2 linked regions of the Homo sapiens genome follow. The protein of the gene in region 1 interacts with the protein of each later gene in a pairwise test. Each region holds a gene or a part of one and is shown in the gene's direction. Other genes may lie near its edges.

Evidence for each region. Proteins that work in one complex are often made in the same cells at the same time.
Region 2: the proteins of C5AR2 (region 1) and HAGHL interact in a two-hybrid assay, tested with the Homo sapiens proteins (one large-scale study listed by BioGRID and IntAct).

What each region holds. Positions count from the first base shown.
Region 1 is NC_000019.10:47,338,555-47,342,199, forward strand, and holds part of C5AR2 (C5a anaphylatoxin chemotactic receptor 2), read left to right. Parts: intron 1-1,932; exon of another isoform or gene 1,933-2,058; intron 2,059-2,230; 5' UTR 2,231-2,245; coding exon 2,246-3,259; 3' UTR 3,260-3,645.
Region 2 is NC_000016.10:725,520-729,264, forward strand, and holds the start of HAGHL (hydroxyacylglutathione hydrolase-like protein), read left to right. Parts: upstream 1-1,586; 5' UTR 1,587-1,990; coding exon 1,991-2,095; intron 2,096-2,445; coding exon 2,446-2,510; intron 2,511-2,596; coding exon 2,597-2,714; intron 2,715-2,796; coding exon 2,797-2,905; intron 2,906-2,984; coding exon 2,985-3,085; intron 3,086-3,274; coding exon 3,275-3,376; coding exon of another isoform or gene 3,377-3,489; coding exon 3,490-3,569; coding exon of another isoform or gene 3,570-3,649; exon of another isoform or gene 3,650-3,745. Other genes in the region: CCDC78 (coiled-coil domain-containing protein 78), read right to left, coding at 1-361, 447-848. UniProt on the Homo sapiens protein: Hydrolase acting on ester bonds.

The sequences.
Region 1 (3,645 bases):
CCTGTAATCCCAGCAGTTTGAGAGGCTGAGACAAGGCAGGTTGCTTAAGCCCCAGAATTCAAGACCAGCATGGGCAACATGGTGAAACCAGATGACCTCCAAAATAATAATAATAATAATAATAATAATAATAATTAATCAGGCATGATGGTGTGCACCTGTAGTCCTAGCTACTTGGGAGGGTGAGGTGGAGGGTTGCTTGAGCCCAGGAGATGGAGGCTGCAGTGAGCTGGGAAAGTGCCGCTGCAGTCCAGTCTGGGCTACAGAGCCAGACCCTGTCTCAAAAAATAGTAATAATATAGTAATAATATTATTGTGGCCCGACATGGTGGCTCACGCCTGTAATCCCAGCACTTTGGGAGGCTGAGGCAGGTGGATCACCTGAGGTCAGGAGTTCGACACCAGCCTGGCTAACATGGTGAAACCCCATCTCTACTAAAAATACAAAAATTAGCCAGGTGTGGTGGCATGTACCTGTAATCTCAGCTACTTGGGAGGCTGAGGCAGGAGAATTGCTTGAACCCAGGAGGCGGAGGTTGCAGTGAGCCGAGATCATGCCACCACACTCCAGCCTGGGCAACAGAGCAAAACTCTGTCTCAAAAAAAATAAATTATTGCTATGATAGATTATGTCGCTTCCTTGCTCAGCACCCTCCTATAGCACCTGTCTCATTTGGAATAAATGATGATGTCCTTGCGTTGCCCACGTGGCCCTACATGCCGTGGCCCCTGATAACTGTTTTTCATTTGTTTTGTTTTGTTTTGTTTTTTTCTTTTTTTGAGATGGAGTCTTGCTCTGTTGCCCAGGCTGGAGTGCACTGGCATGATCTCAGCTCACAGCAACCTCCGCCTCCCTGGTTCAAGTGATCCCTCCTGCCTCAGCCTCCTGAGTAGCTGGGATTACAGGCGTCCACCATCACTCCAGGTTATTTTTGTGTTTTTAGGAGAGATGGGGTTTCACCATGTTGGCCAGGCTGGTCTCAAACTCCTGACCTCAGGTGATCCACCCACCTTGGCCTCCCAAATTCCCGTGATTACTGGCATGAGCCACTGTGCCCGGCCCCTGATGACTCTGCTATTGCCTCTCACCCTCTCCCTCTGGCAGATTCCACTCCAGCCACACTGGGCTCCTTGCTGTTCTTGGACATGACCGTCATGTTCCCACCTCAGGGCCTTTGCACTGGCTGTTCTCGATGCCTGAAACACTCTTCCCCCAGATCTCGATGCATCTCTCCCACTGTTCCTTCAGATTTTTATGCAAATGTCACCTTCTCAAGAAGCCTTCCCTGACCATGCCTGTACAACTCCAACATAGCCAGCTTCCCTGTGTGATATTTTTCCCATAGTATTTATTATCTTCTAAAATACTGTGGATTTTGGATTTTGCTCATTTCTTTCTTTCTTTTCCTATTTTTTTTTATTTTTTGAGACAGAGTCTCTCTCTGTCATCCTGGCTGGAGTGCAGGGGTATGATCAAGCTCACTCAATCTCCTGGGCTCAAATGATTCTCCCACTTCAGCCTTTTCGGCAGCTAGGATCACAGGCACGCATGACCATGCCTGGCTATGTTTTAAAAAATTTTCGTAGAGATGGGGTCTCCCTATGTTGCCCAGGCTGGTCTAGAACTCCTGACCTCAAGTGATCTTCCCACCTTGGCCTCTCAAATCGTTGGGATTACAGGCCTGAACCACCGTGCCCAGCCCCAATATTCCAATGTACTAGGGTTCTGGCATTGTAATATTCTAGAATTCCAAGATGCCACTTCTAACAACACTAAGTTCTAGAATTCCAATTTTTTTTTTTTTTTTTTGAGATGGAGTCTCACTCTGTCTCCCAGGCTGGAGTGCAGTGGTGTGAGCTCAGCTCACTGCCACCTCCACCTTCTGGGTTCAAGAAATTCTCAGCCTCCCAAGTAGCTGGGATTACAGGTGCCCGCCACCACACCCAGCTAATTTTTGTATTTTTAGTAGAGACGGTGTTTCACCATGTTGGCCTGTCTTGAATTCCTGACCTCAAGTGATCCACCTGTCTTGGCCTCCCAAAGTGTTAAGATTACAGGTGTGAGCCACCACACCCGGCCTAGAATTCCAATATTCTAAAGCACTGGAGTCCTTATGACGCAATATTCCAGTTTGCAAGGTGCTGGTGGGCCGGGCTGATGGACACCCTAGATCTCCAGGGCCATGGAGTTTCCTCCTCTGAGTTTTCATCGTCTTTCTCTCCTGCCCAGACACCAGGAGCCTGAATGGGGAACGATTCTGTCAGCTACGAGTATGGGGATTACAGCGACCTCTCGGACCGCCCTGTGGACTGCCTGGATGGCGCCTGCCTGGCCATCGACCCGCTGCGCGTGGCCCCGCTCCCACTGTATGCCGCCATCTTCCTGGTGGGGGTGCCGGGCAATGCCATGGTGGCCTGGGTGGCTGGGAAGGTGGCCCGCCGGAGGGTGGGTGCCACCTGGTTGCTCCACCTGGCCGTGGCGGATTTGCTGTGCTGTTTGTCTCTGCCCATCCTGGCAGTGCCCATTGCCCGTGGAGGCCACTGGCCGTATGGTGCAGTGGGCTGTCGGGCGCTGCCCTCCATCATCCTGCTGACCATGTATGCCAGCGTCCTGCTCCTGGCAGCTCTCAGTGCCGACCTCTGCTTCCTGGCTCTCGGGCCTGCCTGGTGGTCTACGGTTCAGCGGGCGTGCGGGGTGCAGGTGGCCTGTGGGGCAGCCTGGACACTGGCCTTGCTGCTCACCGTGCCCTCCGCCATCTACCGCCGGCTGCACCAGGAGCACTTCCCAGCCCGGCTGCAGTGTGTGGTGGACTACGGCGGCTCCTCCAGCACCGAGAATGCGGTGACTGCCATCCGGTTTCTTTTTGGCTTCCTGGGGCCCCTGGTGGCCGTGGCCAGCTGCCACAGTGCCCTCCTGTGCTGGGCAGCCCGACGCTGCCGGCCGCTGGGCACAGCCATTGTGGTGGGGTTTTTTGTCTGCTGGGCACCCTACCACCTGCTGGGGCTGGTGCTCACTGTGGCGGCCCCGAACTCCGCACTCCTGGCCAGGGCCCTGCGGGCTGAACCCCTCATCGTGGGCCTTGCCCTCGCTCACAGCTGCCTCAATCCCATGCTCTTCCTGTATTTTGGGAGGGCTCAACTCCGCCGGTCACTGCCAGCTGCCTGTCACTGGGCCCTGAGGGAGTCCCAGGGCCAGGACGAAAGTGTGGACAGCAAGAAATCCACCAGCCATGACCTGGTCTCGGAGATGGAGGTGTAGGCTGGAGAGACATTGTGGGTGTGTATCTTCTTATCTCATTTCACAAGACTGGCTTCAGGCATAGCTGGATCCAGGAGCTCAATGATGTCTTCATTTTATTCCTTCCTTCATTCAACAGATATCCATCATGCACTTGCTATGTGCAAGGCCTTTTTAGGCACTAGAGATATAGCAGTGACCAAAACAGACACAAATCCTGCCCTCAGGGAGCTGATATTCTTCTAGTGGAGGAAGACAGACTATAAACAAAGATATATAGGGCCATTTGCGGTGGCTCACGCCTGTAATTCCAGGGCTTTGGGAGGCTGAGGCAGGTAGATCACTTGAGGTCAGGACTTCAAGACCAGCCTAGCCAATATGGTGAAACCCTGTCTCTACTAAAAATA
Region 2 (3,745 bases), on another chromosome or scaffold:
CCTGGCTGGTGCCATCTCCTCGCAGCTCCAGCTCCAGTACCCGGCTCTCCAGCCGAAGGATCTGTGGGACAACTGGCATGAGCAGGTGCACCTGCCCGCGGGCCACCTGGGGTAGGTGAACATTCACCCGGTGCACGCTCAGGGGCGCGCAGCACTCAGAGGCAGGCTGAGACCCACAGATGCCATGTGCGTGTGCATGCCCATGCAGGGCACGTGTCCTGGGCCTGCACCCCCCGTCCCCCATGCACTGAGGCTGGTTCACACGGCTGCTCACCTCACTCTTCAGCTGGAAGATTTCAGCCTCATGCTGCTCATGTAGGTGGTGGGTTGTGATCTGAATGTCGACCAGCTCCTTGGAGATCTGTGGGTGGCCAGGTGAGAGGTGGCGTCTGTGGGCCCTGCTGGCACCCTCCCTCCTCACGAGCACGCTGGGGCCCCACACCCACCTGCAGCTGCTGCTCCTTATTGAGCGCTAGATCTGGTGGGACCTCTGCTTCCAAGCTGGTGGCCCACACTGCGGTGCCCCCAGGAGCTCCTGGCAGCCAGTCCTTGGCTCGTAGCACAACCTGGGGAGGTACCGCCACCCATTCCCCAGGTGGGTCCCAGGCTGGGCTGTGGCCCCACTCCCATGCAGTCACCAGTCCCGCCTCCCTGCCTGGCTGAGCTGTAAAAGTCCCTCTCCTGGCTGAAATTAGGCCCAGGGTGCAGGAACCTGCACCCTCCTGGCCTTTGGGGGAACGGGCAGACTTCAACCCCATGGCAGGAGCGGCAAGTCCCAGAGGACTCACATTCTCCACCCGCCGAGAGGGAGGTCCAGGCCTGGGGCCTGTGGTGGCTGCGTGCTCCATAGGCTAGGGAACCCTGGCCAGCTCCGAGCCCGGTGCTGCCTCCACGCCCGGCTTCCCCATGGCTGCTGCTGCCACTGGCACTGCTAAGTGCGTTGCCAAGGCCTCTGTTGGTCCCAGGTGACTCCCAGGGCACCGCCCACAGGGGCCGGCCAGACCGGTGGTTGCTGAGGAGGGAGGATAGCTCTTCCTCTCTCCATGCCTCCGTTTCCCCATCTGGGGAATGCGGCCCAGCGCCCCCTGCACATACCCTGTGCAGATGGAACCAGGTGCGTGAAAGCGCCCAGCCTGGGCGCAGCGGACGAGCACGCGGAACGGAGCGGCAGCCCGCCCGCAGGATGCCCTGAGCTACACTCGCTGGACACCTTCTGTGTACCTAGCAGTGCTGGCTGAGCCCCGGGACGGGGGAAGTATATCTCTGCACCTCTGGCCTGAGAAGAGGGGCGCAGACGTCCCCATCAGGGGCCGGAGAACTCGGAAACGACTGGCTCAGCCGGGGCGTCGGGAGGGCTTCCTGGAGGAGGTGCCAGCGCCGGGCGCGGCGGGGTCGGAGCGTGCGCGTGGCGCCCCACCGGGCACGCGCACCGCCGGCGGGCCTTGTGGTCTCATCGCGCGCAGGATCCGGGCCGGGCGGGGGCGGGGGCGGGGCGCGTCCGCGGAGGGGGGCGGTTGGCGGCTCCCGAGCCCAGCGCCGCGCTCAGTCCGGACCCCGTGACCGGCGGCCGAGGCCCCGCCTCCGTCAGTCTGTCCTTCGGGTCCTCAGCACAGCCGTGCCGGTGAGGCGGGCGGCGGGGGAACGCGGCTGTCCCGGGTCAGGGGTCTTGCGGCGGCAGGGCGGGGGGCCGAGGGGCGGGGCCTGGGAGGAAGGCGTGGCCTTTGGGGACTGGGGCTCGGACTGGGGGCGGAGCCGGGGCTGGTTGGGGACCGGCCGGGTTCCGCTCCTGCTGGAGCCCGGTGCGTGGAATTCCACGCGAGTGCCGGGGAGTTCCTGGGGAGCCGGGCTTCTCTTTTGGCCCCCAGCGTGTTGACCGAGCCCGCTTCGCACAGCCCTTCCTAGGGTGTGGAGAGCGGGCCCCGCCCTGAAGGGGCACCGTGGGCTGGGGGGCCTGTTTTGGAGCAGGCACCGGTGGCCGAGCTCCGTGACCATGAAGGTCAAGGTCATCCCCGTGCTCGAGGACAACTACATGTACCTGGTCATCGAGGAGCTCACGCGCGAGGCGGTGGCCGTGGACGTGGCTGTGCCCAAGAGGGTGAGGGCAGGCCGCGGGCCGCAGGGACCCGGCCGTGTCCCCCGAGAGCCTCCCCGACCCCCCTGGTAGGAGCGAGCCCCCACGTGCTCTGCTCTCCGGAAGTCATTGGCGGCTGGGGTTCCTTGTTTATCTTGGGGCTCCCTGAAGTTACGGCACCTCTGGCCTCCGCCCTTTCGCTGCTGCCTGGCGGTCCCTGCACGCGCTGGGCGCAGTCACCGCCCGCTGGGTCCCCGCTCCCCGGCGCTCCCCGGGGCTCTGGCCGGCCTGGGGCAGTGAGCGCGGCGGATCCCGATATGGAGGGAGTGGGCCACCGGGACCGTCTGTGTTACCGTCACTCCCGTCCCTTTCAGCTGCTGGAGATCGTGGGCCGGGAGGGGGTGTCTCTGACCGCTGTGCTGACCACCCACCATCACTGGTGAGCGCCGGCGGGGCGCGGGGAGGCACGAGGACGCCGCCTTGTCCCAACCCGACCTAACCCGGCCCCCGCCCGCCCGCCCGCAGGGACCACGCGCGGGGAAACCCGGAGCTGGCGCGGCTTCGTCCCGGGCTGGCGGTGCTGGGCGCGGACGAGCGCATCTTCTCGCTGACGCGCAGGCTGGCGCACGGCGAGGAGCTGCGGGTGAGCGCGCGCTCCCGGGAGGGGCGGGGAGGGCGCCCCGGGTCCACCCGCCCTCACAGGTCCGCCTGCTCCTCCGCCGCAGTTCGGGGCCATCCACGTGCGTTGCCTCCTGACGCCCGGCCACACCGCCGGCCACATGAGCTACTTCCTGTGGGAGGACGATTGCCCGGACCCACCCGCCCTGTTCTCGGGTACCCGCAGCGCGGAGCGCGCCCACCCCGCCTCCCGCCGGCCCCGCCCCATCTGCTCTGACCCGCCCTCCCCCGCCAGGCGACGCGCTGTCGGTGGCCGGCTGCGGCTCGTGCCTGGAGGGCAGCGCCCAGCAGATGTACCAGAGCCTGGCCGAGCTGGGTACCCTGCCCCCCGAGACGGTGAGCGGGCCTGGGCCCTCCCCTCTTCTCCCGTGGGCACAGCCCCCACGCTCCGCACCCTCACTGTGCTAGGGGTGCAGAGTGAATGCCCACCTGAGGGCAGACCGGGCAGGGGAGGCCAGGCCCCCGGCGCAAGCACTTTCCCCGCTTCCTGGCCGCGTGCGCGCTCACCGAGCGCTCTTCCTCCAGAAGGTGTTCTGCGGCCACGAGCACACGCTTAGCAACCTGGAGTTTGCCCAGAAAGTGGAGCCCTGCAACGACCACGTGAGAGCCAAGCTGTCCTGGGCTAAGGCACGGCCCCTTTCCCGCCGCGGCAAGAGGGTGGGGGGGGAGGGAACAGGCTTCGGGGTGGGGGGGGCTCTCAGACAAGGCCTAATGGTGACCGGGGCCTGTGGTCACTCCAGAAGAGGGATGAGGATGACGTGCCCACTGTGCCGTCGACTCTGGGCGAGGAGCGCCTCTACAACCCCTTCCTGCGGGTGGCGTGAGTATGGCTGTTGTCCCGGGGCCTCCACCGTTACGTGGACCCTTAGGAAGGCATCTGGGGACTGCGTGTTGGGCTGAGTGAGCATCTCTGGCTTGGGGGAGGCTGCTCATTAAGTGCCTGCCTGCCCGCCCACCCCTCGGCGCCATGCTCCCGCGTGGGCAGCGGGCCCTGCG